Linked DNA regions of Homo sapiens: region 2 is linked to region 1. Evidence: fine-mapped expression QTL. A gene starts in region 1. The other region holds a variant in brackets. All regions are shown on one strand. Distances are from middle to middle.

Region 1 (16,237 bases):
AGAGGCTTTGTCTCAAAATAAAACAAAAGCAAAAGAACAATTGGTTAGAGACTTGGAAATGGAACAATTTACATGCTTATAATATACCAATTTTTTTTTTAATCAAACTTCAGAAAAACAAGTTTCTAGTCTAACTAGGGAAGAGGCAAACAAATCTCATTCTTTCTTTTCCTTTTCTTTCTTTTTTTTTTTTTGAGACAGAGTCTTGCTCTATTACCCAGGCTGGAGTATAGAGGCACAATCACAGCTCGCTGTAACCTAAACTCCTGAGGTCAAGTGATCTTTCTAACTCAGCTTCCTGAGTAAGGCATGTGCTGCCACGCCTGGCTAATTTTTTTTTTAACTTTTAGTAGAGAGGATATCTTGCTATGTTGCCTAGGCTGGACTGACAAATTTCAGTTTAACAAGGGAACTACTATTGCAGAAGGAAGAATAAAGTGTGTGAAACACAGAAGAGGGGCGTCCTAATTATGGCTAGAGGAATCAAGACAGCCTTGACCAATGAGCAGGCATTTATACTGGGTTTTGAGGGATGAGTGGGAGTTTGATAGGGATAAGAGAGAATACCCGTACAAGGATGAGGTCATAAAAAGGCCCAGCATCCTGAATGTAATGAATAGAAGGAGGTGGGCAGAAGCATGTCCATGAGTTGAGGGAGCTGCTTGCCTGAACGCCTACTACAAGTGTAGTACTCTTTCAACAATTTTAAGACACCGTGTCAACCTGATGGTAGTTTAGACCAGCAGTCCTCAAAGTGTGATCCATGAACCTCTGGAGGCCCTTGAGATCCTTTTAGAGGGTCTGCAAGGTCAAAATTATTTTCATTGTAATGTTAGGTCATTATTTCTCTTTGTCATGAGTGTACAGTGGAGTTTTCTAGAGGCTACCTGATGTGTGATATTGTAACCGATAAAATGTAGAGGCCCGGTGCGGTGGCTTATGCCTGTCATCTCAGCACTTTGGGAGGCTGAGGTAGGCGGATCACGAGGTCTAGAGATTGACACCATCCTGGCTAACACGGTGAAACCCTGTCTCTACTAAAAATACAAAAAATTAGCCGGGCGTGGTGGTACATGCCTGTAGTCCCGGCTACTTGGGAGGCTGAGGCAGGAGAATCGCTTGAACCCTGGAGGCGGAGGTTGCAGTGAGCCGAGGTCGCGCCACTGCACTCCAGCCTGGGCAACAGAGCAAGACTTCGTGTAAAAAAAAAAAATGTAGAGGAAAATAGGAGACTCAATCAAGCAGTCTTGTGCTGAGCCAAACATTAAGGAGGGCCTGCGAAACCAAAAGTTTGAGAACTTTGATTTAGACTCTGATGAAAAGCTATTAGAGGAAACACTATTAACAGAAGTCAAGTCCATGAGAAGTTTTTCTAAAAGTAGCTCCTTCCCCATTAACCAGAGCTTCAAATTCTGTTTTGGTCCTATCCTTCCCTGGGGTTATGTTAGAAGTGGGTGTGCCCTTGGAGATAGTTTTGAAAAGGTAAATTGGAAAAGTGGATTAAAACCATCAATTCTTTGCAAGCTCCCTGTTTCAAAAGATAGAATTTATCTCCCTACCCCTTGAATCTAGGTCAGTCTTATATCATTCTTTCATACAATATAGCAGAAGTGTCATCATACGACTTCCAAGGAAGACCAGGCTCATGCTCCTGTATTCCTGAAAGTGCTGTGCTCTGAAAGACTATGAGGGAAGAGAGGCCCCAGCTAAACAGCCATCACAGCTCATCTGTCACCTACAGCTTCTCCATGAGAGAGTCCAGGCAACACTAGCAGCAGGATTGCCCAGTCCACCCACAGAATCAAGAGAGATAATAAATTGTTGTTTTAAGCCACTAGGTTTGGGGTGTTTCTTACGGAGCAACAGACACTTGATAGAGTTGGGGACTAACTGCCTGGCCTCAAATGCAGAAGTATGTATTTTATCTCCTGGACCAGGGTTTCTCAACATGACATGATTGACATTTGAGGCTGATAATTCTTTTTTTGTTTGTTTTGAGACGGAGTCTCACTCTCTCGCCCAGGCTGGAGTGCAGTGGTGCGATCTCGGCTCACTGCAAGCTCCGCCTCCCGGGTTCACGCCATTCTCCTGCCTCAGCCTCCCGAGTAGCTGGGACTACAGGCGCCCACCACCACGCCCGGCTAATTTTTTTTTTTTTTTTTTTTTTTTTTGTATTTTTAGTAGAGATGGGTTTCACCGTGTTAGCCAGGATGGTCTCAATCTCCTGACCTCACGATCTGCCCGCCCGCCTCGGCCTCCCAAAGTGCTGGGATTACAGGCATTAAGCCACCGCGCCTGGCCGAGGCTGGTAATTCTTTGTTGAGGGGGGCTGCCCTGTGCATTACAGGATGCTTAGCAGCATTCCTGCTGCCACTAGATGACAGTGACAGCTCCACCCAGTTGTGACAACCAAAAATGTCTGCAGACATTGCCAAATGTCCTGTGGGGGACAAAATCCCACCCCCTCCTTTAGAACCATTGTCCTAGGCCAAACCATTCTGAGAATAAGAATCACCTGGGGGGTTATTAAAACTAGATTTCCAGACTCCTCCCCTAGAGATTCTTATTTATTGTGTCCAGATTATGACCTGCAATGTGAATTTTTTAAATGCTCAAGGTATTCTTATCAGAGGAATGTGAGAACTGCTACAGCAGAGACGAGGAACCAAAAGAGGTCTGACCTGCTCATTTTGTGTTTCAGGAAGATCCTTCTGGAAGCGGTTGGAAGATAAATCGGGTAGGATGTGGGGGGATGTAGAAAAGAGAATAGAATTGGAGGCTATTACTTAAATTCAGGTGAGAAATAACAAGGGAGTTGTATAGGGCAGTGGTGGTGGGGGTGCATTCCAAAGATATTTCTAAGGCAGAATCAGTGAAATTCATGACGAATTGGATATTGGGGAGAGGAGGGCTTAAGGAAAAAAAAATGAGGCCAGGTGCGGTGGCTCACGCCTGTAATCCCAGCACTTCGGGCGGCCGAGACGAGCGGATCATGAGGTCAAGAGATTGAGACCAGCCTGGCCAACATGGTGAAGCCCCGTCTCTACTAAAAATACAAAAATTAGCTGAGTGTGGTGGCAGGCGCCTGTAGTCCCAGCTACTCAGGAGGCTGAGGCAGGAGAATCACTTGAACCTGGGAGGCGGAGGTTGCAGTGAGCCAAGATTGCACCACTGCACTCCAGCTTGGCGACAGAGAGAGACTCCATCACAAAAAAAAAAAAGAAAAAAAAGAGCAAAAATTAAAGAACTTTTATACTTCAAATGATATCATCAAGCAAGTGAAAAGACAATATGCAAAATGGGAGAAAATATTTGCAAGTTACATATCTGAAAAGGGACTTGTATCTAGAACATGTAAGAACTCTTATGACCAACAATAAAAAGACAAACAACCCAATTAAAAAATGGGCAAAGATCTGAATAGACATTACTTCAAAGAAGATACCCAAATGGCCAATAAACACATGAAAAGATGCTCAACATCATTAGCCATTAGGGCAATGCAAAGCAAAACCACAGTGATACACCACTTCATACTCACTAGGGTAGTTATAATCAAGAAGACTGATTATAACAAATGTTGGCAAAGATGTGGAGAAACTGAAACTCTCACTCATTGCTGGTGGTTATGTAAAATGGTGTAGTCTCTATGGAAAACAGTCTGGCAGTTCCTCAAATGGCTAAACAGAGTTACCATATGACGCAGTGTCTACCTACTCCTAGGTAGATACCCAAGACAAATAAAAACAGGCTGGGCGTGGTACACCTGTAATCTCAGCACTTTGAGAGGCCAAGCTGGGAGGACTGCTTAAGCCCAGGAGTTTGAGACCAGCCTGGGCAACATAGTGAAACCCCATCTCTACAAAAAATAAAAAAAATTAGCTGGGCATGGTGGTGCATACCCGTAGTCCCAGCTACTTGGGAGGCTGAGGTGGGAGGATGGTTTGAGTCCAGTAGTTGAGGTGTCAGTGAGCTATGTTCATGCTACCACACCCTCACCAGGGTGACAGAGTGAGACCTCATCTGTTAAAAAAAAAAGTCCCTATAAGAACTTGGATAAAAATGTGAACAGGAGCACTATTCACATAATGGGCAAAAAGTGGACAACAACCCAAATGTCTATAAATTAATGAATAAATGTGTTATATTAAATATTAATACAGTGAAATATTCAGCAATAAAAGGAAATAAAGTGCTGATACATACTACAACACGATGAACTTTGAAAACCTTATGCTAAGTGAAAGTAGCCAGTCTCAAAAGACCACATATTATATGACTACATATTTATGAAATGTCCAAAACAGGCAAAACTAGCCAGGCATGGTAGTTTGCACCCATAGACCCAGCTACTCAGGAGGCTGAGGCCAAAGGATCACTTGCAAAACTTAAGGGACACACAGTAGCTTAATGGTTGCCTAGGGGTGGAGGTGGGCCATGGATTGGGGGAAAGGGGAATGTGACTGCTAATAGGTACAAGGTTGTTTTTTTGTTTTTTGTTTTTTTTTGAGATGGAGTCTTGCTCTGTCACCCAGGCTGGAGTGCAGTGGCGTGATCTCGGCTCATTGCCACCTCCGCCTGCCGGGTTCAAGTGATTCTCCTGCCTCAGCCTCCCAAGCAGCCGGGACTACAGGTGTGCACCACCAAGGCTGGCTAATTTTTGTATTTTTAGTAGAGACAGGGTTTCACTGTGTTGACCAGTCTGTTCTCTAACACCTGACCTCAAGTGATCCACCTGCCTCGGCCTCCCAAAACCCTGGTATTTACAGGCATGAGCCACTGCACCCTGCCAAGGTTTCTTTATAGGGTGACAAAATGTTCTGAAACTGATTTGTGGTGATAACTGCACCACTGTGAATATACTAAAAACCACTGAATTGTATAATTTCTTTCATTTTTCTTTTTGTTTTTTCTTTAATAGGAGACAGAGTCTTGCTATGTTGCCCAGGCTGGAGTGCAATGGCCATGATCCCATTACTAATCAGCACAGGAGTTTTGACCTGCTCTGTTTTGGACCTGGGCAGAGTCCTCTTTCTTAGGCAACTTGATGGTGCCCCCCACCCTCTGTGGACACCAGTGGGTACAGTGCACTACTGCCCAGAACTCCTGGACTCGAGCAATTCTCCCAGCTCACCCTCCTGAGTAGCTGGGACCACCGGCATGTGTCACCGCGCCCAGCAAATTGTATTCTTTAAAAATGGGTAAGTTGTAATGATATGTGTGTTAAATCTCAATAAAGCTTGAGTTTCTAGCTTTAATAACTGGAAACATGGTGTCACCATTAGCCAAAATTGGGACTACAGGAGGAAGAATGTGTTTGGGGGAAAATAAGCCTTGGACATATTGAATGGCTGTGATAAGCACACAGTGAATGTCCTGCTCTGGAACACAGGAAAGAAGATGGGGCTGGAAATAATAATGCATACACAATCATTTATTGAGCATCTGTTACATACCAGGTGCTGTGAATATGTTGTTTATGTACACTGACCGGTAGGTTGCGTATGTATACTGTTTATTGTTTCTGCTCCCTCTCTTCCCCTGTGTAAGTCAATGAGAGAAGGGCCTTCATCTTTCTTAATGCTGTCTCCAGCACCTACAGCACAGGCTGGCAGAGAGTCGGCATATAGCATTTACTGGGTGAATAGAAATGCAGTATCTTTTAACCCTCATAACAATCCTTTGTGGTAGGTTTTCGTTCCCATTTCACACAATTTTCTTAAGAGCACAAAGCTAGTAAGTGACAGTGGTCTGTCTGCATTCCACGTCACAATGCAATACTATAATCTCTCAATCTCCCAGAACGAATCTGGAACAAAGGAAAGCAGTAAAGGTCATGTAAACCCAATTTCTGCAAATTCATAATAACTGCATATGAAAATCCAACTGGGTTAGGTGCTGGAGTTAATACAACGATAAACTGGACAAGAATCGGAAGAAAAATACATTTAAGACAAAATCCGTAAGACTTGACGCATAACCTTGCTAGTTCAAGAAGCTCTTTCACACATATTATGTTATTTAACCCCCACAAATAGCCTAACAAGTAGGTTTTATTACCATTCCAATCAGGCTTTTGTCCTCCACTTAAACTGTACTCCCCAAGGTGACTTCTGTGTTGCTAAATGCTCAACAGGTACTCACTTCAGGCACAACATTTAAGGGAGCACCAAAAAACTAAGTGATCAAGATGAATAACATTTTTATTTTTTAAAATTAAAATTAATGCAAAAAAAAAATCCATGAATAACAAAATACCAACATTTAAAATAAAGAGGATTCTCAGGACTGGGCTCGCCTACCTGGATGCCCTAACGGAACTCCTCATTCACAATAGGATTGAATGACCTCGAACTAAAGTGTCACGTACTTCCTGCTCGTGATGCTCGTGAGCCCGAACGAAGGCTGAAAAACTTCAGGGGGAGCCATTCTGCCTATCACCCCTAGTTCCAGCGCAGCAGCCCAGCGTGCACCACGCAGGTGGGAACTGACCCCGTGCTTTTGGAACAGGCTGGAACTGGGGGTGCTTGTGCCTGTGCATGTATGTATTGCACACGTGTGCATGCACGCTTCTCGTCTTGCTTCTATTTCCAAGTCCCAGTTCAGGACAGGGCAGAGAACTGCTTTCCAGTATGCGCCCTGAGCTCGGACTTTGCGCTTGCAGACTGAGGCGCCGGCCTGCATGGGAAGACAGAAGCTCAGAATTCCTTCCTGCACAAGTGGCAGGTGGAGTGCAACTCTTTTTGGTGCCTCAGTCCAAGACAGGGACACGCCATTCCCTGCGAGGTGGCAAAGGTACCTGAACCTACATAACCAAGCCCTTAAAGTCTCCGCGGCACCTCTTAATCGCCTTCCCGTAGCTATTGGAGGTAGAGAAACCGCGGCGGGAAGCGCCCCAGAGAGGGCAGTGGAGCAAGGGACACTGGAGGTGCAGAAGGCGGAGGAGCATCTCCTTTCGCTCCGCCCCGCCTCTTTTCCTGCCTCCGGCCAATTGCCGTGCGCTCCGAGCCTTGACCCCGCCTCTCCCCGCCTCCTCCGGCCTGCGGCCCCGCCCGCGCCGGTAATAATTAGCGGGCGGGCGGGGCCCGCGCGTCAGCCGCGGGAGCCGGCCAATCCAGTGGCTCTCCTCCGCGGTCGCGTCATAGGCCGAACAACCAAACAGAAAAGTTTAATAAACAGCGGACGGAGGGGCCGGCGGTGGCGGAGCCGGAGCAAGCAGGGGTTCGGCGGCATTACCTGTACCCATTCACCGGCGGCTACCGGCGGCGGCGCGCAGCGTGTCAGGCGGAGAGACCCGCCGCCAGGTGAGGAGCGCGGCCCGCGGGGCCCGGCTTGCCCGGCGCTGCCCCTCCCCCGCCTGCTCCCTTCCCCCACCCGGCTGCAGCTAGGCGAGGCCCGCCCCCGGCCCCTCCCGGCGCCCGAGAGCCGGAAGCGGAGGGCGGCCGGCCGGCGCAGCAGGTGGTGGGCCCGCGGGGGCCGCGGGCGAGAGGGCGAGGACTCCCGGCTCCGGGGGTGGGGGCCGGAGATCGGCGGGTTCACCTCAGACGGCGCGCGGGCGCCCGCGGCCGGGGGCCGCTTCCTGTCAGGGTGGTCGCGCTGGGGTCGGGAGCCTCAGTTCTTCAGGGCCGCGGAGGCCGCGACGCGCGCCGCCCCGAGCGGGTTGCGAGCGGTTGGCTGGCGGGGGTCGGAAGGGCCCCGGGCACACTGGGGCGCGTCAGTTCCCCGCCTCCTCCGAGTCTCAGGTCCTCTTCGGGATGTTTTTCCACCTGCGGCGTTTTTCAGAAACCAGCCGGAGGCAGCCCGGTGTCTCCAACTCCTGACTGGCACCGGGAAGGGAATTGGTCTCTTTTTTTCCTGCTTGGGTTTAGCTTGCTTAGGATTCTAAATTTTTTGTCTGCTTTTTTGAAATAGTTATATTTAAGTTTTAGCTACCTAAAAAAGTATGAAAGAATATTGTGTTTGAAATCTTTTTAACTTGGTTTTTAAGTCACGTGCTAACTATCCTACACAGTTGGGACGCTATGATTTACCTTCACATCTCGGAAGTTGTAACCAGTTGTGAGGAAGTTAGGACCTTGGGGTTACCTAAAGATAATTTATATTAAGTTGTTGGGCCATAAAAACTGGGCAGAATTGGCCACGCGCGGTGACTCAACGCCTGTAATCCCAGCACTTTGGGAGGCCGACGCGGACTAATCACGAGGTCAGGAGATCGAGACCATCCTGGCCAACATGGTGAAACCCTGTCTTTACTAAAAATACAAAAATTAGCTGGGTGTGGTGGCGGGCGCCGGTAGTCCCAGCTACTGGGAGGCTGAGGCAGGAGCATCGCTTGAACCCGGGAGGCGGAGGTTGCAGTGAACCAAGATCGCGCTACTGCACTCCAGCCTGGCGACAGAGGGAGACTCCGTCTCAAAAAAAAGCCGGGCAGAATTAATGATTTTGAAGCTCCGAGAAACAGGATTAAATTCCTCTTTCAAACCGAAATCGGAATTTGATTTTTTAAAAGTGTAAAATACCATAAACTTTTAAGGTTAGTTGTTCGGTAACCATGTCACCAATTTTAAGGCACTTTCTGAGTTGTGTATAGTTTCTCCAGAGCCCTAGGGGAAATGTTTTGCAAAATATGCACGTTTAGCTTTCCAAAACAAGTTGTCTTTTTTATTTTTACTTTTTTACGTTTTAAAATGTGTTTAAAGGGAGACATCACAAATGTGCAGGAGAAAATACAGGGGTCGGTGGATTTATTATCTTGTAGTGATAACTTTTTGGGTGTATGCATATGTCAGAACTTACACGTTTTACACTTCAAATATGTGCAGTTTATTGTCAACTATATGTCAGTAACGTTTTTAAGAAGTAACCAAAATATATTTAATACTACCAAAAAAAAACACGGTAAAGTATAAGCAGATAAAAACATCATAAATCCTTGATGACTCCCCCCAAACCCAAAACTGGAACATTACTAAAACTTGCATTTGTCTATGAGTTTCTTATCTGTGCAGTGGATTTTGTGTATGTCACTTCCTTGACTTTTTGAAAAATAGTTTTATCATATATGTTTGTATGCCGAAACTGTGTGGCATTTAATTTGTTTTTCTTTTGAGCTTTATAAAAATAGTATGTGGCTGTAGTTTATTTCATTGCTTTATGATATGTTAATCTGCCATAACTTATGGGCACTTCGACCGTGTTTTTATTGTTTTTTATTTTGTTTTGTTATAAGCAGTCTTGCTCTGTGAACATTTCTTGTTTCCGGCTCTTGGTACACAAGTACAAGAATTTCTCTAGAGTAAATACTTAATGTGGATTGCATTAGACGGTATTAGGTAATCAGGACTAGAATAGATTGAATTACTTAGAAATAAGATGAATGAAAAACATTAGGATTCTCTATTATGTTTAAATAGAAGATTCATAGCCGTAGTGATTGAACTAGTTCAACCTAGTTGAACATTTGCATGAAAACCCAAAATTCCTGTTAACCTATGTGTAATGACTCTCTTACTTTGAAGTCACATTGTAAAAAGTCTGGCACTGTTTGGTATCTCCTTTTCAATGCAAAAATAGTATAGTAGAAAAAACGCTGGATTGTATGTAAAATAAATTATCCTTTCTGCTGTTCCTCTCCTCCCCTCTAATCTCTAGCAAATTACTTAAAAATTTCTCTTGTGCCTTAGCATACTCATGTAAAAGAAACTTGTCCTAAGCTTATCCTTCCACTTTTGCACAGACTTTAATTAAGGAAAACACCTGTCAAATGTCACACCCTTTAAGGGAAAGCATTAGGACCAAGGTGTTATTCTGTGGAATTAAATTTTGTATCCTTTGGAACATTTTTGGAAAAGTTGTGTGGTGGTTCAGGATTTGTTAACTCCATATTTAAATATGTTTTAGATTAGAGAATGCCCACAAGGTGTGTTTCCCGAGGATCTGTTTCATTATGCTAACAGGAACACAGCGACAAATTAGGGAATAGTATCTCCTTACTATCCTGAAGATAGGTGTGTTTTTATGTGTTTCATGTTTCATTCATGTATGTAAGTGTGAATTTACATGTAATTTTGAATAACCTTTTTGTTTGAAGGCATGGGAGTAGAGATGGTTTCATTTTTTCTATATGTAGCTTGCAGACAAATATCAGGATGCTTTGTTTTGGTAGGGCTGTATTCTGCTTTTAAAAACCTTATTTTTTATTTAATTATAAGGACAATGTGTATATGGGGTTTTCCCCCTCAAACTTGAGAAAGAATAGAAAGTTACTAAGAAAAGCCACCTATAACACCATGATAGATAACTATTATTAACATTTTGTCAGGTATACCCCTGGTCTTTATGTGTGTATTCTTAATATCCTAAACTATTAAGAGTCCATTCTAAACACTCTCAGCCTGGCTCTTTCTTAAGAACTTACCGAAATGTAATCTGCCTCACCATCTTATTTCATATAAGATGATAATAGAAGTCATCTGTTACCATTGCTTCAACTTTTCTACTCTTCTGCTTCATTTAAATGTGTAAATTTGTAAATTACAGTATCTTACTCTCTGACTCAAAACCTCCCAGTAGCTTTTCAATATACCAAATAAAATTGAAACCTCTTACTGTGGCTTATATACCTCAGACCAGCAAAGTCCACTAGAAATACAACGTTAGTCACAAATGGGAGCTACATTAAGTAATTTAAAATTTTCTGGTAGCCACATTATGAAAAAAAGAGAAACTGGTGAAAATACGTTTTATGTAACCCAAAAACTATTATTTCAACATGTAATCAGTATAAGAAATTGTTGATGGGATAGTTGTCTTTTTTTAGACTGTCTTTATAATTTGGTGTGTATTTTCCACTTAAAGTACATCTCAATTCAGACTAGCTACATTTCTTTTTTTGTATTTTTTTTGAGACAGAGTCTTGCTCTGTCTCCCAGGCTGGAGTGCAACGGTGCGATCTCAGCTCACCGCAACCTCTGTCTCCTAGGTTGAAGTGATTCTTGTTCCTCAGCCTCCCGAGTAGCTGAGACTACAGACATGCACCACCACGCCCAGCTAATTTTTTTTTTTTTTTTTGAGACGGAATCTTACTCTGTTATACAGGCTAGAGTGCAGTGGCACAATCTCGGCTCACAGCAACCTGGGTTCAAGCGATTCTCCTGCCTCAGCCTCTCCCCAGTAGCTGGGACTACAGGTGCATGCCACTACACCCAGCTAATTTTTGTATTTTTAGTAGAGAGGGGGTTTCAGCATGTTGGCCAGCCTGGTCTCAAACTCCTGACCTCAGGTGATCCACCTGCCTAGGCCTCCCAAAATGCTAGGGTTACAGGTGTGAGCCACTGCACCCGGCCTAAATTTTTATGTTTTTAGTAGAGACCGCGTTTCACCATGTTGGCCAGGCTGGTCTTGAACTCCTGGCCTCAAATGATCTGCCTGCCTTGGCCTCCCAAAGTGCTGGGATTACAGGCGTGAGCCACCATGTCTGACCCAGACTGGCCACATTTCAAGTGCTCGGTAGCCACATATGACTAGTGGTTACCCACATGGACAGTTCCATCTTATAAAAGTACTATAACCTAGTTATCTGTTGGGTGTAACTTAAGTTTATTATTTTTTTCTTATTATTATAAGTAGTGTGATAAATATAAGAGCTACTACTATGTATTTGTCATTGTTTCTTTCGGATCTAGTCTGTCTTACAATCACTGAATCAAAGCATATGAACATTTCTTAAAGTCTTTTCATAAATATTGCCAAATTTTGTCCTTAAAAGTTTGACTAACATCAAACTTTAATATCAAATTTGACTAAAAATATGACAGAATACACATTTCTTGTATATCTTTACCAGCATTATCTGTCTATCCATCTACCCTCCATCTTTCCTTCCCTTTCTATAGGAATCATCATATATTTCTTTAATTAATTATGATGGTAAATAAACCTGGATATTGGACATCTTCTAGTTTATCTTTTGCCCATTTTGGCTGGTGTTTTATATTTGTGATACCCTTTTAAACTTTTTATATTTTTAGGATTTAGGATAGCAACTCTGCTATATACTGCAAATATACATATACACACAAATATATATACACATGTATACATACACACACACACACACACACACGTATGTTTGGGTTTTTTAAAATGTTTTTTGAGACACGGTCTTGCTCTATCACCCAGGATAGAGGGCAGTGGTGCAGTCATGGTTCACTGAGGCCTCTACTTCCTGGGCTGAAGTGATTATCCCGCCTCAGCCTCCTGTGTAACTGGGATTACAGGCGTTCCCCACCATGCCTGGCAATTTTTTGTGGAGATGGGGTTTTACCATGTTGCCCAGAATGGTTTCAAACTCCTGGGCTCAAGCAATTTACCTGCCTTGGCCTCCCTAAGTGCTGGGATTACAGGTATGAGCCACTGGGCCTGGCATGCAAATATTTTTCCTGGCTCTTCATTTACCTAACAGTGTTGTCTTTTCTCTTGCTCTCTCTCTCTCCCCCTTTTTTTTTTTTTTTTTTTTAACAAAACAAAAAAACAGGCAAGGGTTTTTACTTTTTAAGAAAATTAGGTTAATACTTTCTTTTATGGCTTCTACTTTGCTTTTATATTTAAAGGCTTCTCCTACCCAGTTAAGTTTTCTTCTAGTTCTTTTACGGTTTCATATTTCACATCTGTCTTTTTCTGTTCATCTGGGATTTATTTTGACATATGTGAAGTGAAATAACCTCCCTTATTTTTCCTTAAAAATTTTGGCCCCACTAAAAAAAAAAACAACTTGTTGCCTTGAAATAAAGCTGCCTTTATCATATGTTAAATGCACATCTTCTTGGTTCTTTTTAGGTTTTATTGAAATATCAATGATTTGGTACCAGTGTACACTTGTATACATGGGGCATGGTATTTTCATTTTGTAAACAAGTGTGTTTCTGTTATTGTTTAAGTCTCCCCCCCATCCCCCTTTTTTGGTTGTTGCTTTGTTAGTCCTCAGATTTTTTAGTTTATTCTTTTGGGGCTTCAAATTAGTTTTGGTTTTGATTTTTTTTTTTTTTTTTTTTTTTTTGGAGACAGAGTCTTACTCTGTTGCCCAGGCTGGAGTGTGATGGCATGATCTTGGCTCACTGCAGCCTTTGTCTCCAGGTTCAAGTGATTCTCATGCCTCAGCCTTCTGAGTAGTTGGGATTACAGGGGTGTGCCACCACACCTGGCTAATTTTTGTGTTTTTAGTAGAGATAGGGTTTCATCGTGTTGGCCAAGCTGGTCTCGAACCCCTGACCTCAGGTGATCTACCCACCTCGGCCTCCCAAAGTGCTGGGATTACAGGCGTGACCCACTGTGCCTGGCCAGTTTTGAATTTTTTAACTTAAAAAAATTGCAACTTTTATAATATTTTATGTTTTATAATGAAAAAATGTAATCCTATTGAATGTTCCTCTGAGCATAGCTTTAGCTATATTACTTAAATTTTGATGAGTAATATTTTTATGTTTATATATTTAAAAACCCCTGCAGTTGCAGTTTTTATTTTTTCAACAAGTATTTAAGCACCTGCTCCATCTAGACATTCTGCCAAGTGCTGAGGACACAACTATGTACAAGACAAGGTCTCTTGCCTTCATCCAGTTACAGTCTGTCAATATAGACAAACCAACGAATAAAGAATTTTCAGATTTCGACAAGTGTCTAGGAAGTAAATAAATAATAGAAGGTGCTAATTGGATGATCTGAGACTGTCTCTCTGAGGATGTCATGTTTAAGTTGATTGGTGGTACCAAGGTGTGTATGGGAGTTTCTTTAGCTTTCCCAATCTATCGAAACATAAAAAAAAAAAAAAACGGAGTCTCACTCTGTTGCCCAGGCTGGAGTGCAGTGGTGTGGTCTTGGCTCGCTGCAACCTCTGCCTCCTGGGTTCAAGCAATTCTCCTGCCTCAGCCTCCTGAGTAGCTGAGATTACAGGCATGCGCCACCATGCCCAGCTAATTTTTGTATTTTTAGTAGAGATGGGGTTTCACCACGGTGGCCAGGCTGGTCACAAATTCCTGACCTCAGGTGATCCACCCGCCTCAGCCTCCCAAAGTGCTGGGATTACAGGCGTGAGCCACCACGCCCAGCCGAAATGACTAAGTTTTTTTGGGAAAATATTTTGTGAAAATTGCTTTGCAGGCCTGGCTGAGATCACTTGATGTCAAGAGTTCAAGACCAGCCTGGCCAACGTGGCGAAACCTCATCTCTGTTGAAAATACCAAAATTAGCTGGGCGTGGTGGCCGGTAGCTGTAATCCCAGCTACTCGGGAGGCTGAGGCAGGAGAATCACTTGAAACTTAGAGGCGGAGGTTGCAGTGAGCCGAGACTGCACCACTACACTCTAGCCTGGGCGACACAGTGAGACTCCATCTCCCAAAAAAAAAAAAAAAAAATTGCAAACAGTTTGAAGCCTCTTCCCCATCTTCCAGCTGGATTGCTGCTCCAAAGCTTGTCCTGTGTAGAAAATTTGGAACTTTGATTCTGAGTTCTAAAATCAAGAAGTTGAAGGTAGTTTCCCATGTGAAGAGAACTGCTGGCACAAATGGTACATATGCAAAGTGCTTGACTTGACTTTGAATTTGACAGAAGATTAGAATGACTGGTGTTTACTGAGGGAGGACAGTGGGACAAGCTTTGTTTCAGGACTTGTTTGGGAGACTTTTATTTTTTATTTCCAAATGGTAGGGCTGCTTCCACCCCTCCTGCCTTCCTATGGAGTTTTGATTTTGTAATCCAAATCAGTCTCCTACAAATAGCATATATTATTTTACCTCTTGTTACTTTTCTTCATTATTTCTACTGTTTTCAGTTTTCTCTACTCAAGACCTTTGCATATGCTTTTGTTTTGCTTAGTTGTGATTTCCTTGAGGAATCCTTCCTTGATGCCACAAAATAGGTTAGGTCTTTCTCTTGGCTTCATGGGCTCATTTTATATTGGGCTTTTCTTTCATAAACATTTGTAACAACTCCAGTTCATTAAGTTTGTGTGAATTGTTTTAGCATCTATTTCTTCTTCCAGAACCATAGTCTGGTAGCTACCATCCACTTGTGGCTATTTAAATAAATTTAAATTTAATTTAATATTAAAAATTCAGTTCCTCATTTGTATTAGTCACATTCTAGGTGCTCACTCAGTGGCCTTATGTGGCTAGTGGCGATTGTGTTGGACAGCAGAGAGACAGTCTTCTGCAATAATAGATACTTATCTTAATTTATAGTCCTGTGGCTAATGGCTACCATATTTTATTTAAATAGTCACATCTGACTATTGAGATATGGCAAGTCTGAACTGATGTATTAAGTTTGAAATAGGAACTTGATTTCTAGTACCAAACAATGAAAATATCTCAATTTTTAAAATATTACATATTGAAGTAGTGATATTTTACATGTATTGTGTTAAAATATACTATTACTGTTAATTTTATTTCTTAATTAAAAAAATTTTTTTTTCTTGAGACGGAATCTTACTCTGTTGCCCAGGCTGGAGTGCAGTGGCACAATCTCGGCTCACTGCAACCTCTGCCTCCTGGGTTCAAGTGATTCTCCTGCCTCTGCTTCCCAAGTAGCTGGGACTACAGGCGAGCACCACCGCGCCTGGCCTGTTTTTTTTTTTTTTGTTTGTTTGTTTGTTTGTTTTTGAGACATGGTGTTGCCTTTGTCGCCCAGGATGGAGTGCAGTGATGTGATGTTGGCTCACTGTAGTCTCAACCTCCCTGGCTCAAGGGATCCTCCCACCTCAGCCTCCTAAGTAGCTGGGACTACAGGCGCGCCACCATGCCTGTATAATTTTTAAAAATTTTTAAAATTTTTTGTAGAGATGGGGTTTCACTGTGTTGCCCAGGCTGGTCTTGAACTTTTTTTTTGAGATGGAGTCTCGCTCTGTTGCCCAGGCTGGAGTACAGTGGCACGATCTCGGCTAACTGCAGCCTCCAGCCCCCGGGTTCAAGTGATTCTCCTGCCTCAGCCTCCGGAGTAGCTGGGATTACAGGCGAGTGCCACCACGCCTGGCTAATTTTTGTATTTTAAGTAGAGACTGGGTTTCGCCATATTGGCCAGGCTGGTCTCGAACACCTGACCTCAGGTGATCCGCCCACTGTGGCCTCCCAAAGTGCTGGGATTATAGGCGTGAGCTACCGCGCTCAGCCGGTCTTGAACTTTAGAGCTCAAGTAATCTGTCTGCCTTGGCCTCTGAAAGTCTTGGGATTACAGGCGTGAG
Region 2 (16,237 bases), 86 kb after region 1:
GATGGTTTAATTATCAAAATCTGTAAATTGATCACATTAACAGATTATAAAGAGAATAAACCGTTATGACTGTCTTAATAGATTCAGGTAGAGTAATAGAATTTAACAGCCATTCGTGATAAGAAAAATTAAACTTGACAAATTAAGACTAGAAAGGAATTTCCTTAAGCTGATAGTTCTATGTGAAATCAACAGCCAAACAAACAAAACCAAGCATCAGCTAAAAAGAGGAAACTTACTTCCTTTTAAAGTCAGAAACAAAGATGACTGCCCACTATTACTGCTTACTATTCAAAATTGTGTTGGAGATTATAATCAGTGGAGCAAGACAAGACAGAAAAATGATAAGAAAAGAGGTAGCACTCATTATTTGCACATTGTTTTTATAGAAAAATCATTACTAGAAATAATAGGGTTTAGTTAGGTAGCTAGATACAACATTCGTTTTTAGAAGACAGTTGCATTTCTTTACACCAGTTACCTAGAAAACCAGGAAACACCATTTGACAATAATACCAGAATCTTGGTTACCTAGGAAATTGACAATATATGTGGATGGCCTCCTCAAGAAAGAATTCTAAAACATTAAGGGATAATAGGAATTCAGTAAATAGATGTTAGTGGATAGGAAGACAGTATCAAAAAATGTCATCTGTCCCTCAGTAGGCATAGATTCAAGGTAATCCCAATCAAAATTCCACTTGATTTTTTTTCATGGAGCTTGTTTAGTTGATTGTAAAAGTAAAAGTTAAAAAGAGCAAAAGGCTAGAACATTTCAGAAGAGAGCAGGGAGACAGGGACTTGTCCTAAATGTCAGGACTCACTGTGAAGCCTTGTTAGTTAAAATAGCATGTTATTAGCTGATAGGGACAGACAGATACCTGAATTGAATAGATTGCCCAGAGAACTCTGCACGGACTGAACTTTGGTGTAAGAGAGAGGTGGCACATTGCATTCAGGAAAGGAGACTTCGATAATTAGAGCTAGAAGAATTGGTTTTCTGTATGAAAAAGGAAAAAACCCGTATGTTATGCCATAGGAAAAAAGGACTTAAAACAAAATTTGAAAACTCTCAGAAGAAAGATGGCTGCCTGTTAGGTCTTAGGATAGAGAGACTTCTTGGCCAGGCACAGTGGCTAACGTCGGTAATCCCATCACTTGGAGGCCGAGGCGGGCAGATCACAAGACCTGGCCAACATGGTGAAACCTCGTCTCTACTAAGAAATACAAAAATTAGCCAGGCGCAGTGGCACATGCCTGTAATCCCTACTACTAGGGAGGCTGAGGCAGGAAAATCACTTGAATCCGGAGGCAGAGGTTGCAGTGAGCTAAGATCGCACCACTGCACTCCAGCCTGGGTGACAGAGCAAGACTCCATCTCAAAAAATAAAAATAAAAAAAATAAGACACAAAGCATACTATAAATGTATTATTAATGAATTTATCTATTAAAAGGATATTTTATTCTCAAACACATTAAAGTATCTTCAAAGAATGTGAAAAGACAAAGGTGGGAGAAGTTCCACTGCAAATGAAGACTACCCATTCAAGCAACAAAAAATTAATCTGTCAGTATATAGTGTTGCCAAATTTCTGTGTGTTCTTGCATTGCTGGTGTTAGTGCAGTGGTTCAATCCTTGAGAAAGTTTGATACTGTCTTTTAAAGTGGAACTTTTACATACCCAATAGTCCAGAAATTGCACTCCCAAGTGCATACCTAGGAAAAACTTACACATAGATAAATGGGGGACCGCAGCCAGGAGCGGTGGCTCAAGCCTGTAATCCCAGCACTTTGGGAGGCCAAGGTGGATGGATCATGAGGTCAGGAGTTCGAGACCAGCATGGCCAAAACGGTGAAACCCCATTTCTACTAAAAATACAAAAATTAGCCAGGCACGGTGGCAGGTGCCTGTAATCCCAGCTACTGGGGAGGCTGAGGCAGGAGAATCTCGTGAACCCAAGAGGTGGAGATTGCAGTGAGCCAAGATCGCACCACTGCACTCTAGCCTGGGCAATAGAGTGAGATTCCATCTCAGAAAAAAAAAAAAGACAAATGGGGGACCACTACACGAAGTTTTATAGTGCTGTTTACAGAAGCAAAAGCCCAGAAACAAGTCTTCAAATCCCCAGTGAAGAAGAGTGGATGAATATAATGTGATATATTCATACACTGGAATAATACACTGTAACCAAAACTGCTGATCCATAGTGACACAACAAAATAGAAGCATATTATGCAAAAAAGTCTTCCAGTATAGTAAGCTTTAGAAATACAGGAAGAAGTGCAGTATAGTAAGCAAAACTAGTCTCAAAATATGCAACATGCTCACCTATAAACACTTTAAAATACATTCGCATGTAATAGGTTCCCCCCCCTCCCCCGAGACGGAGCCTTGTTCTGTTGCCCAGGCTGGAGTGCAGTGGCGCGATCTCGGCTCACTGCAAGCTCTGCCTCCCGGGTTCACGCCATTCTCCTGCCACAGCCTCCGGAGTAGCTGGGACTACAGGCGCCTGCCACCACGCCCGGAGACTTTTTTTTTTTTCGTATTTTTAGTGGAGACAGGGTTTCAACATGTTAGCCAGGATGGTCTGGATCTCCTGACCTTGAGATCTGCCCGCCTCGGCCTCCCAAAGTGCTGGGATTACAGGCATGAGCCACCGCGCCCGGCCGATTTTTTTTTTTTTTAGTAAAACGGAGTTTTGCTCTTGTTGCCCAGGCTGGAGTGCAATGGCACAATCTCAGCTCACGGCAACCTCCGCCTCCTGGGTTCAAGCAATTTCTCCTGCCTCAGCCTCCCGAGTAGCTGGGATTATAGGCATCTGCCACCACGCCCAGCTAATTTTGTGTTTTTAGTAGAGACGGTGTTTCACCATGTTGGTCAGGCTGGTCTCGAACTCCCGACCTCAGGTGATCTGCCCTCCTCGGTCTCCCAAAGTGCTGGAATTACAGGCGTGAGTCACCGCGCCCAGCCAATAGATTTTATGTGAAAAGAAAGCAGGATAATGATGATGAAAAAATTCAGAACAATGCCCTTAGATGAGAGGTGGCAAGGGATGCGCTAGTAAGTGGTACTATATGGTCAAAGCTCCAGCTTTCTTGGGGTTAGTAGAGTCAGGATGCTTATATTAGGAAACTAAAAGAGGCCATGTATGAACCAATGCTGAGAGTGTCTTGAACCAGGGATTATGATTAATCCAATATTCTGTACCGGAAGTCCAAAGTATCAAAAGCAGAAAGTTAATTATAAAGCTGTTTTGATGATCACATTTTAGAACTTGAAGGTTATGCAAGGAAAGGTGTTGAATCAGCCTCAGCATTCAATTTGTATTTCTTTTTAAAATTGTCACACATAAAAAACAAACATTCACAGTCTTCCAGTTTCACTACACCTAAATACACTGTTAATCAAGAGTTTTCTCGTACTTCAGTCTTCCATACTAATTTTTCTGGGATGTTTGTGCTCAAGTCTGGTGCAAAGTGTCCTCTCCCCTAGTTATCCTACAATGCTAACTTGTACTGCACAGTGCAGTCTTGAAATCATTCCTTTACTTCAAGCACAACTCAAAAGCCGTGTATTTTCTAATGTGAAAACAGTTTTTACTAAACTAACAATGGCTATACTTCCCCTTTCTCATAGTTTCCAGAACATCTTACCAAGACCAGCTCGGTCATGGAGACCCTAACCCAGTGGCGCTAGAGGAATTAAGACAAAGACACAGAGTGCAGAGTGGGAATCAGGGGGCTGACAGCCTTCAGAGCTGAGAACCCTAAACAGAGTTTGACCTGCATATTTATTGACAGCAAGCCAGTGATGAGAATTATTTCTATAGATTATAGATTAGCTAAAAGCCTTCCTTATGGGAAACAAAGGGACAGGCTCTGGCTTGTTATCCGCAGCTGGAACATGTCCTTAAGGCATAGATCGCTCATGCTATTGTTTGTGGTTTAGGTACGCCTTGAGCGGTTTTCTGCCCTGGGTGGGCCAGGTGTTCCTTGCCCTCATTCCAGTAAACCAGCAACCTCCAGCGTGGGTGTCATAGCCATCACAAGCATGTCACAGTGCTGTAGAGATTTGTTTATGGCCAGTTTCTCATGGCCTGTTTATGGCCAGATTTGGGGGACCTGTTCCCAGCAACATCTAAACAGATATTATTGGGAATTTAGGAAAGGATACTTTGTTGTGGTGTCTTTTCAGAGACTGGCTTCCTGGCCATTTTCCCTTCTTTTTATTAACACATAAGCATCAAGATTAATTCAGAAGGCCAGTAGAATAGAAAGTCAGAATGTGGAGATGGGAGACAGAATGTAACCAATGAAAGATGTTAACATCTGGAATGAAATCAAAGAATCTACGTAAAGACTCTTGAAACTTATAAGCAGTTATAGTAAGATTGCAGGATAAAAGGTTAATACAAAAAAAAAGGTGAATATATAATACAAAAGCCAATTGCTTTGCTATATACCAGCAATGAAAAATTTAAATTTAAAATTAAAAACACCATTCACACCAGGTGCAGTGGCTCACGACTGTAATCCCTGCACTTTGGGAGGCCGAGGCAGGTGGATCACGAGATCAAGAGATCAAGACCATCCTGGCCAAGATGGTGAAACCCTGTCTCTTCTAAAAATACAAAAAATCAGCTGGGCGTGGTGGCATGTGTGCCTATAGTCCCAGCTACTTGGGAGGCTGTGGCAAAAGAATCACTTGAATCCAGGAGGTGGAGGTTGCAGTGAGCCGAGATCATGCCACTGCACTCCAGCCTGGCGACAGAATGAGACTCCATCTCAAAAAAACAAAAAACAAACAAACAAAAACACCATTCACATTAGCCCCAACAAGAGGGAATGCTTAGGTATAAATCTAATAAAATATGACAAGATCTATGTGAAGAAGATGACAAAACTAATCAAGGAAATCAAAGATCATTTCAATAAATAGCTTTCATTTCAGTGCTAGGAAGACTCAATATTGTCAGTTCTTCCCACGTTAGTCTATAAGCTCAATGTGATTTCAGTCAAAATCCTAGCATGTTATTTTGTGGATAGCAACAAAGTAATTCTAAAGTTTATGTGGAGGGGCAAAGGCCCAAAATGGCCAATGCGATACTGAAGAACAAAGACTGATGCTACCCAACTTAAACACCTACTATAAAGCTCCCATAATAAAGACTGGTATTTGCAGAATATATCAGAGAGCCCAGAAATAAACCAATACAAATATAGTCAACTGATCTTTGACAAAGAAGAGAAGACAATTCATGGAGAAAGTCTTTTTCATAGGAATACTTTTTCAAGCAGTAGTGATCAGCTGTACATTTACATGCAAAAAAAGTCAATCTAGACACCTTGAACCTTTCACAAAAGTTAACTCAAAATTTATCATAGACATAAATGTAAAACACAAAAATGTAAAACTTAGAATATAAGAAATTCAAGGTTTGGTTTCGATTTTTCTAAGTAAAACACTAAAAGCATAACTTGGGAAAGAAAAATTATTGATGACTTGGACTCTGTTAAAGTTAAAAACTGCTCTGCAGAAGCTGCTGTTAAGAAAATTAAAAGACAAGCCACAGACTTGGAAAAAATTAGCAAAACACATAAAGGGCTTTCATTTAACATATACAAAAAACTCTTAAAAGCTTAATTGTATGAAAACAGTCCAACCTAAAAATGGGCAAAATATCTGAATAGATATCAAAGAAGATACACTGATAGCAATTAAAAAAAAAAAAGCCTGCAGCCTCAGCTACTCAGGAGGCTGAGGTAGGAGAGTCACTTGAGGCCAGGAGTTTGAGTTTGGTCTGGGCAACATAGTGAGACCCCATTTCTAAAAATTTTTTTTAATGATTTAATAAAGTATACTTGGTTAAAAAGCAAAAGTGTCCACACAAAAACTTGCACACTGACATTTTAGCAGCTTTATCCTTAATTGCCAAAAATTGGGAGCAACCAAGATGTCCTTCAATAGGTGAACAAACAAACTGTGGAACATTTATACAGTGAAACAGTATTCAACAAAAATAGAAAGGAACTTTCAGGGCAGGAAAAGACATAGAAGAATCTTAATGCATATCGCTAAGTGAAAGAACCCAATCTTAAAAGCTACATACTATATGATTCCAATTATATGACATTCTGGAAAAGTCAAGACTACAGAGACAGTAAAGAGATAAGTGGCTGCCAGCGGTCCAGGGGATGAATAGAAGTAGCAGAAGGGATTTTTGGAAATTAAGAAAACAATCTCATTTACAATAGCTACCAAAAAACCCCCAACCAAACAAAACACTTGGGAATAAATTTAACCAAGGAGGTGAAGGACCTGTACACTGATAACTAGAAAACATCAATGAAAGAAATTGAAGAAAACAGAAATAAATGAAAAGATATGGCCAGGCGCGGTGGCTCAAGCCTGTAATTCCAGCACTTTGGGAGGCCGAGGCAGACAGATCACCTGAGTTGGGAGTTCGAAACCACCCTGCCAACATGGAGAAACCCTGTCTCTACTAAAAATACAAAATTAGCCAGGCGTGGTGGCGCATGCCTGTAATCCCAGCTACTCTGGAGGCTGAGGCAGGAGAATCGCTTGAACCTGGGAGGTGGAGGTTGCGGTGAGCAAAGATCGCGCCACTGCACTCCAGCTTGGACAGACAACAAGAGCGAAACTCCGTCTCAAAAAAAAAAAAAACAACATAAAAGATATCCCATGTTCATAGATTGGAAGACTTAATATTGTTAAAATGTCCATACTACCCAAAGCAATCTACAAATTCAATGGAATCCCTGTCAAAATTGTAACGATATTTTTCACAGAAACAAACAAACAAATCCTAAAACATGTATGGAACTGCAAAAGACGCTGAATAGCTAAAGCACTCTTGAGCAAAAAGAACAAAGCTGGAGGCATCACACTATCTGACTTCAACATCTACTACAAAGCAGCCAGATGTGGTGGCTCATGCCTGTAATTCCAGCACTTCGGGAGGCTGAGGCAGGAGGATCACTTGAGCCCAGGAGTTTGAGACCAGCCTACACAACATAGCTAGACTCCATCTCTACATTTTTTTTTTAAATATTGGCCAGGCATGGTGGCAGATGCCTATAGTCCCAGCTATGCAGAAGACTAAGGTGGGAGGATCACTTGAGCCACTGGGAGGTTGAGGCTGCAGTGAGCCGTGATCATATCACTGAATTCCAGCCAGAGAACAGAGCAAAACCCTGTCTCTAAAGCAAAGCAAAACAAAACAAAATGAATCTACTATATAGCTATAGTAATCAAAACAACATGGTGCTGGCATAATAACAGACATATTGAACAGAATAGAGAGCCCAGGAATAAATCCACAGATTTACAGCCAGTTGATTTTTCACAAAAGTGCTGAGAATACGTGATGGGGAAAGGACAGTCTCTTCAATAAATGATGTTGGGAAAATTGGATATCCACATGTGGAAGAATGAAATTAGACCCTTATCTCACACCATATATAAAAATCAACTCAAAATGGATTAAAAACGTAAACTTAAGAAATGAAACTGTAAAACTAGAAGAAAATGGGAAAAGCTCCATGTCATTGGTCTGGGCAATGATTTTTTGGATATGAACCCAAAAGCACAGGCAACAAAAGCAAATACAGACAGATGCGATTATATCAGGCTAAAAAGCTTCTGTATAGCCAAGGAAACAATCGACAAGAAAAAACCTAGGAAGTGGGAGAAAACATTTGCAAACCACACATCTGATATGGAATTAGAATCTAAAATAAATAATGAAGTCAAACAACTCAATAGCAAGAAAACAAGTAACCTAATTCTTAAAAAATGAGTAATGGATATGAATAGACATTTCCCAAAAGACATAAAAATGGCCAACAGGTATGTGAAAAAATGCTCAACATCATTATCAGAAAAATGCAAAATAAAACCACGATGAGATATCATCTCACACCTGTTAGAATGGCTATTATCAAAAAAACAAAAGACAGCAAGTATTGCAGAGGCTGTGGAAAACAGGGAACCCTTGTACTTTGTTGGTGGGAATGTAAATTAGTACCGCCATTATGGACAACATAGGGGTTCCTCAAAAAATTAAAACTAGCGCCACCATATAATTCAGCAATCCCTCTGCTAAGTATATATCCAAAGGATATGAAATCAGTATGTCATAGAGATACCTGCACCTCCATGTTCATTGTAGCATTATTCACAATAGCCAAGATATGAAATCAAACTGAGTGTCCATCAGCAGATGAATGGATAAACAAAAGGTTTGTATACACAATGGAATACTATTCAGCCATAAAAAGAAATCCTGTCATTTATGACAACATGGATGAAGCTGGAAGACATTATATTAAATGAAATAAGCCAGATGCAGAACAACAAATACTGCATGATCTCACTTACATGTGGAATCCCAGAAAAAGTTGAAGTCAGAAGTAGAATAGAATGATGGTTACCAGGGGGTAAGGGCTGGGAGGTTGGGGAGATATTGGTTAAAGCCCACAAAATTTCAGATAGGAGGAATAAGTTCAAGAGATCTATTGGAAAATATGCTGACTATAATTAATAACCGTATTTTTTTTTTTTTTAGTCCAACTGAGTCTTGCTCTGTTGCCCAGGCTGGAGTGCGGTGGCGCAATCTCAGCTCACTGCAACCTCCACCTCCCGGGTTCAAGTGATTCTCCTGCCTCAGCCTCCCGAGTAGCTGGGACTACAGGCACGTGCCACCACACCCAGCTAATCTTTGTATTTTTAGTAGAGAGGGGGTTTCACCGTGTTAGCAAGGATGGTCTCGATCTCCTGACTTTGTGATCCACCCGCCTTGGCCTCCCAAAGTGCTGGGATTACAGGCGTGAGCCACCACGCCTGGCCTTATTATATTCTTGAAAATTGCCAAGAGAGTAGATTTCAAATGTTCTCAGGACAAAAAAAATGAAAAGTGAGGTAATGTTTATGTTAAGTAGCTCAACTTAGCCATTGTGCAATGTGTACCTATTTCAGAATGACATGTTTTACATGATAAATATGTATAATTTTTATTTGTCAGCTAAAAAAGTAAAAAAGAATTCTCCAGGTGTTGTCCCAGACAGCCGCTGAGATGTGGAACACATCTGACAACAACAATCAGAATCCTGGTGAGGAGGGAGGGCAGGACAGAATGCTCTCACACAGGATGTTCTTAGACAGAGTCAATCTACTTCTCATGTTGCATGTTATACTTTTATGTACATTAGTGATGGGGAGGTAAGGAAGAGGAAAACAGGATTGCTGACATTTATTGAGAACTTTCTGTGTGTCCCACAATATGCTGAGAGTTTTTGCAGGGGTTTTCTTATTTGATCTTCTAAACAACCTTACAAGGCAGGTATCGTTTTTATTATTTCATTTTTCCAATGCATGAAATTAAGATTTGGTGAGGTACAGTAACCTAAACCCAAACTCAATATGAACGTTCTAGAAAGAGATTTCAAATCTTTCTTATTTGAAACCTTAACATATATATTCTTACAGCTGGGTGCAGGGGCTCACGCCTGTAATCCCAGCAACTTGGGAGGCTGAGGTGGGCAGATCACGAGGTCAGGAGTTCAAGACGAGCCTGACCAACATGGTGAAACCCCATCTCTACCAAAAATACAAAAATTAGCCAGGTGTGGTGGTGTGAGCCTGTAATCCCAGCTAGTTGGGAGGCTGAGGCAGGAGAATCACTTGAACCTGGGAGGTGGAGGTTGCCGTGAACCGAGATCGTGCTACTGCACTCCAGCCTGGGCAACAGAGCGAGACTTTGTCTCAAAACAAAACAAAACAAAACAAAACAAAACATAACAAAAAACAAACCAACAACAACAACAACAGACATATATATTCTGTTACCACATACTGTTTCCTTTTGTTCAACATCTAGGGAAAGGGCCACAAGGAAAAATCATGCCTAACCAACTTTAGTGTGTGTGTGTGTGTGTGTGTGTGTGTGTGTGTGTGTGTGACAGAGAGAGAGAGAGAGAGAGAGAAAGAGAGAGCGAAAGAGAGACAGGGAAATTTTAGTGTGGATTTATTGTTGACAAACTAAACAATGTTTGCAGAGAGAGGCACTGAGAATGATCTATTCAGCTGTGCCAAACAGGTTGAATACAGAGGTTGTAACTTATGTGTCAACATTCCTCTGTATTTCTGGGAGCAGAGTGGGATCCACAGCTATAGCTCAAAAAGGCACCGAACATTTGGATGGGAAAAAAGGGATAATTCAGATGGGAAAACTATTGAATATGTATTTAGTTATAAGAAAACAAAACAAAATTAGAAGTATTTTGTTGAAATAACAGTGAGGGAGAGTCTAAAAAGTGGCTCCTGCTTTGATAATGGTAACAGAGAACTCATTATATGGTACACATTATTAAGTCAGATGGCAATGACATGTTCTTTATTTAAGGTGCTGCTTGTTATTTGTGAGTCTTGCAAATCCAGCTTAAATCCAAAATGGATTTGAGGTAGTATTCCATCAGAACATAGACACAATAGTACCTGAAACAGACTAAAGACAGAATTAAAGAGGGCAGGAAGAAGAAAATTTATATTGCAGAAAACCTAGCCCTGGTTGAGCTGGTTCACCTAGGACTTCATCCAATCCCCTTCTCCCCACCCTACAACATGCACTTGCACTTGAATTACTTACGTTCAGTTCCAAGATCCTCTAAATTTTGAACTCCTTTGAGAGGACAGAATGTCATGTATATTTGCACATGACATATATTCTTGATACTAAAATGTACTGGACACATGCCAAACCCATGATGCCCACTACAAAATGTGTACCATAAACATCACTGAGCTCAGACCTGAAAAAGAGAGGACACTTACTTTGCTAAAGTGCTTGGCCTTTGACATAGTTTCCTCTTTTTCTTGACGACCATGCAGCAGTGCTGAATGTTGCAAAAAAGGCCACCCCATCCTGCTTCCCAGTGCAGGCAGCGTCCACACCTTGCTTATCTGAATGGCAACTGCCAGCTTCTCAGAGCCGTTGCAAGACATTAGTGTCCTGGATCTGGAAAGTT[C/G]TCTCTCAGCTCTCTTGTAAAGGAGTGAGGGACATGCTTTGTGTGAATGAGGGCTGCAGTGCAGTGTGTTGCTTTTTAGCATCAGAGGGAGGCATTAAATATGGTGCTACAGAGACCCAAACCAGCCTTCATTGCTGGAGATGCTGAAACTCACTGCGAGTCCTGAAAGTGTTCATACTCTTTGAGTCAGGAATCTTCCTTAGATAATTGTCAAGGAAAAGGAAAACATTCTGTGCATGCACCTCTTCATTGAACCGTTATTATTACCATCTAAAACATTGCGACTTCCTTAGCTAATGACAATGATCATAATAAAGCCTATTGGGCCTCAAGGAAAAATATTCAAGAGAATAAGGTAGGGAAAGACTGAAAAATTGCATCTATGTAAAGTTTATAAGGATGGAAAAGCCATGTGCATACAAATGGAATGAAAAAAAAACATGAAAATGAGAAGACTACATTGGTGGGATTATGGGCAATCTCTTTGTTTTAAAATTCTTTTTAAATAATTGTTGTGATATACGTGGCCAACACATTCTCTTCCAAAAAATGAGAAAGAAAAAATATAGTATACTTGCAAGTTATTTCAAATGCTGTTTTCCAAATAGAGAACAGCTTTGGCGTTTTCAGACACTGTGTATAATTAGTGGGTTGGTTAAGTCTATTTTAAAACTATGAAATCTTACTCCCTCTTTAGCCATCTCATCCCCACACCCTTTCCTACACATACATCTGCCCCATGTCCTTTCCCTAAAATACTTTGGTTTTCTTTCTCCAAGGGTTTTATCATTTAGGCTTTTGTTAACTTGTATGTATTCAGTAGAAGCTCCTGGCCTAGCATCCCCCACACAACACATGCTCCATAAAAACAGGAATTAAAGATGTGAGTTGCTGGTGTATCCCCATGGCCTGGCATAGGGCATGGGCTTATTAGTTATTGCTTCATTTCCTTTTGGTCAACAGTTTTATATTAATGACATGTATTTATGGAGAACCTATTCTGTGCCAGGTGTTTTGCTGGGTATTGACAGAGTTGCACATGGAATAAGAAAGCTCGTGGTTTTAATGGGAAGGGGCAGGGCAACTACAGAACGTGGAAATAATTCATTGCGTTGCAGCTGAGGACTAGCTTGAATTAGGCAGGTATCAAGTGCTCCCTGGAATGCCTCTTTATAAGGCCACCAAGTTGGGATACTCTCCTCTTCTTTTCCTCTTTCAGGAACCTACCAGAACAAATCAGACCACCTTCATTCCCTCCCCAGGGCTGACTTAAAAGAACTGAAGCCAGTCCTTGGCAGAGCCACTCAGGGCAGGAGATGAGAGCCAAGAGGCTGTGCCCAGATTACACTCCTTACTGGGTGATGATCACTGGTCACGCCTGGTGGACAGGCACCAGAGTGATCTCAGGGGCTAGGAAGGGGGGCTCAACAGCGGGCCCTGCTTGCCGTACTCGCTCCTCTCAAGCCGTCTGGTTTCAAGCCCACTTAGCTCACATTATCCTGCCATCTTCCAGCCTCTTCTCCCTAAGCTGAAATGCGGAGCAGCCTCCCTAACTCAGCAGTCACTGTGTCACATTCCTCAAGGATCTTCAGGGAACCCTTGCCCAGACTATCGTCTACTTTTCTAGATTTCAGCCGGCATCCTGGCTGTTTAAAAGTGTACCTGAATCATTCACACCAACAATAACACAACGACACACTCTCCGGTGTGTTCCAAGTGTCCTGGCTGTGGCATGGTCTCAAAAAACTGCAGCTGACTGCACATGAGTGATTAGATAACACCTTGAACCCACCCTAAGATAGTCTGCCTTTCCCTTCTTTCCTGTCTTCCTTCTTTTCTTTCTCCCTCTCTCTCTTCTCCTATTTCTCTTTTATCTTTCCTTTCCTTTATCCCCCTCCCCTCCTTTCCTCTTTTTCCCTCCCTTCTCTCTCTTTCCACACACACATAACCTGTATATGCCAGGCACTATTCTAGGTGCTTCACAAATATTAATTCATTCCATTCTTATATCAACTTTGTGAAGTAGGAACTATTATCATCAACATTATACAGAGAAGGAAGCTGAGGTAGAGAAAGTTTAAGTAACTTGTCCAAGGTTGAGCATCTTGTCAACGTCATTTTACTACTGGCATGTGAAACAGGTGAGTTATATTTTTTAGAATATTAATTCTCATTAATTGAAGCCTTCCAAACAGGCCTAACTGTCCCCTTCTCTGACATACAAGTGGAAGTGTCATAGCTGGACGGAGCATCATGGTATGAAGGCAGAAAGGACGCGACTGGGTGTTCTTCTGAAGCTCAGGGAGCAGCTCTTGGGGAGAAAGTGTTTCCAGGAAGCGGACAAGAGTTCTGTTGAGCTGAAGAGCAGGGCAGCAGCCGGGGCGAGCGAGGCTGGAGTCATGCAGGGCAGAGCCTTAAATGCTAAGCTGGGGTTTGCTCTCGGTAGGACCAGCTAGCTGCCCCGAGCGGGGGCTGGAACCAGATCTCCCCCACGTGGACTCGCGGACAGGGCGGGGATCAGGACGGGGGCGGGGCCAGGGGAGGGGCGGGGCTCGGGGAGTGAGGCAAGACTGGAGGGCCTGGGACTCTCGGGTACCCGGGCCAGGGGAGGGGCGGGGCTCAGGGAGGGAGGGAGAGACTGGATGACCTGGGGCTTGCAAGGCGGGGCGAGGGGAGGGGCGGGGCGAGGGGAGGGGCGGGGCTCAGGGAGGGAGGGTGAGACTGTGGAGGACCTGGGGCTCGCGGGGTCGGGGCAAGGGGAGGGGCGGGGCTCAGGGAGGGAGGAGAGACTGGAGGACCTGAGGCCCACGGGGGCGGGGCCAGGGGCGGGGCGGGGCTCTGGAAGGGCGGGCGAGACTGTGGAGGACCTGGAGCTGGCGGGGGTCAGGGTAGGGGGGAGGGGCAGGGCTCGGGGTTCGGGGGCGGGGTGTTCACGGTGAGACCAAAAGTCAGGTAGGAGCCTCCGGGGTCCCTGCTGTGTCACCCGGACAGGCCGTGGGGGCGGGCAGGGGGGCGGGGCCGGGCCTGACCACAGCGGCCGAGTTCAGTCCTGCTCTCCGCACGCCACCTTAGGCCCGCAGCCGTGCCGGGTGCTCTTCAGCATGTCCTTCATCCCGGTGGCCGAGGATTCCGACTTCCCCATCCACAACCTGCCCTACGGCGTCTTCTCGACCAGAGGCGACGTGAGCAGTGGGGCTTTGGCGTCCGGGCGCGGGGAGGGAGTGGAGTGGAGTGGAGTGGAGTGGAGTGGAGTGGAGTGGAATGGAGTGGAATGAGGGGCGGGATGGAGGCTTGTGCCATTTTTCTCTTAAGATTCGTTCCGTGAGAGTGCCTATGGGCTCGAGTCCCGCCTCGTAACTTTCTAGCTGTGCACGTTGTTTAACTTTTCAGCCTCATTGTCCGCAGGTTTGCTGAGAATTAAATGCAAAATGAAATGAATCGTGTCACTCTCCCAGACAAGCAGAGCAAGCAGGATTCTGTTACCGGAAGCTGCAGCACACAGGCATGCTGCCTACTCCGAGGTGGTTGCGGTGTGTTTCTCTCGCCCAAGAGGCCAGGTCAGGGCTGGTGGTTCATCTCGCTGGATAGCCCCTAACCCTAGAACCCGGGAAATGATAACCCGGTATGCGTAGCAGGTCAGAGGGGCACGCGCGTTTCTTGGCTTAGAGTTGTGAGATCTAAGATGGCAAGTGTCTCTGCCTATAGCTGAAATTCTTTCAGCTCCTGGTGTGGGCTCCCTGGCATTCCCCTACTGATCAGAAGAAAGAGGGCAGGGAAACAAACTTTGACTAAGTCAGTGTAGTCTGATTGGTAGAAAGAAGTATTTGAAAACTGGGGGTTTATCAGCAAATAGATAATAAGAGGTTCCCTAGGTTGGAAAAGCAGATTCCCTTGGATTTGTTGATGATATTTTTGGCTTAGATTTCTGCTCCCAACTTTAAAGGTAAACTCCTGATTCATCTCTGTAAGCCATAGAACCCCAGAATCAGGAAATGTTTGCTAAACGAGGGGCCTGGCAGTTGGCTTCTTCTTGGAAAGTGGGGTTCCCTCCTTCCCCCATGGCTTGTCATTGGATGCAAGTGGCTGGCCTTTTGTGGGCCTGTCTGCGGTAAGTGCTTTGGTCTAGAAGAGTCAACTTGTGGTTTCACATCTGGCCGGGCTGACCAGATGTTGCAAGGATACAGAAAGTGGACACTCAATCCCCTGGAGGACACAATCTGAGGCACATTAAATCTTAACTTGTGATGGCCAACAACCTTTCTGCAGACAGAGCCCTCCCTCTGCCCTCCTCAAACACTTTGCCCTCGGCAGATGTGTCCTCCCTCACCTTTCCTGGGAGCACAAATCCATTAGACAGAAACATTTGTGAGAGGCAGGCACACCCCAGTAGGGAGCTCTGACTTGCTTTCTCAGGGGAATCGAATTAATATCCGTTAGAGTGTGGCTAGGTGTTTTCAGACACCATGTCCCGCTGTTTCAACATCAGAATGTGCAGGGCAGCCACTACAGATGTCTGGAAGAGAGAGCCCCATTCCGCTGTCCTCTGATACAGTGCTGGGGGTGGAGAGTTGGCCCTTTGGCCTTCCAGCTGAACAAGCCTCTTCTGAAGCTTTCTCTGCAGGCATTGGACATTCCAACCGTGATGGCTGCCTTGCCAGGCAAGACTAGTTGCCAAGGCAAAACCTCCCTTCCCCCATGTCAGCAGTCAGCCTTTCCTAATTTGAGTGGAATAACAATGAATCCTGCCATCACTTTATTCATTTTTTTTTATTCAGCGAATGCTTATGAACCCCAACTCTGGTCCAGATTTTGCCTGGGCTCCGAGTTGGCATCAAAGACACAGGAGACGCCTTCCTTCCATTTCTGGTTGATGGACTAGTAAGGTGTACAGGGGTGCTCTCTGTGAAGGTAGGGGTGGTGGCCTCTGAGAACGGGGTTGTAGTAGTGTGGAGCTGGTTTTGCCGGGTGCCTTGTTAAAGTCCCCGTGGTCTGGCTGTGCTGCTGCCTCCTGGCCTCTGCTTTCTCCAGCCACATTGGCTGCCTTTGAGTCTCTGAGATGTGCTAAGAGCAGCTTCCTGCCTTCAGGCCTTAGCACATGTTGTTCCTTCTGCCTGGAATACTCGTCCTTCTGCTCTCTATATGCTTGGCCCCTTCTCACTCTTTGGGACTCAGCTTAAATGTCACCTCCTA

Direction of the effects. Alleles are on the strand shown, and positions count from the first base shown. SD is a standard deviation of normalised expression in the study named.
In carriers of allele G in region 2, the expression in prostate of the gene that starts at base 7,171 in region 1 tends to be higher than with C alone (small effect, 0.35 SD a copy in GTEx).

The links. PIP is the estimated chance that this variant, and not a neighbour inherited with it, causes the effect.
Region 2: its variant is fine-mapped to the expression of ZFAND6 in prostate (GTEx, PIP 0.92).

Annotation. Positions count from the first base shown.
Region 1 is chr15:80,052,506-80,068,742 of GRCh38, forward strand. It overlaps ZFAND6 (zinc finger AN1-type containing 6), which reads left to right and starts at 7,171. Exons shown (of 7, transcript NM_019006.4): 1 at 7,171-7,304. RefSeq lists silencers at 6,849-7,177, 6,874-7,743 and an enhancer at 14,629-14,678.
Region 2 is chr15:80,138,907-80,155,143 of GRCh38, forward strand. It overlaps FAH (fumarylacetoacetate hydrolase), which reads left to right and starts at 14,093. Exons shown (of 14, transcript NM_000137.4): 1 at 14,093-14,229. The coding sequence starts at 14,149. RefSeq lists a silencer at 13,522-14,081. The variant C/G (reference allele first, on the strand shown) is at 11,048.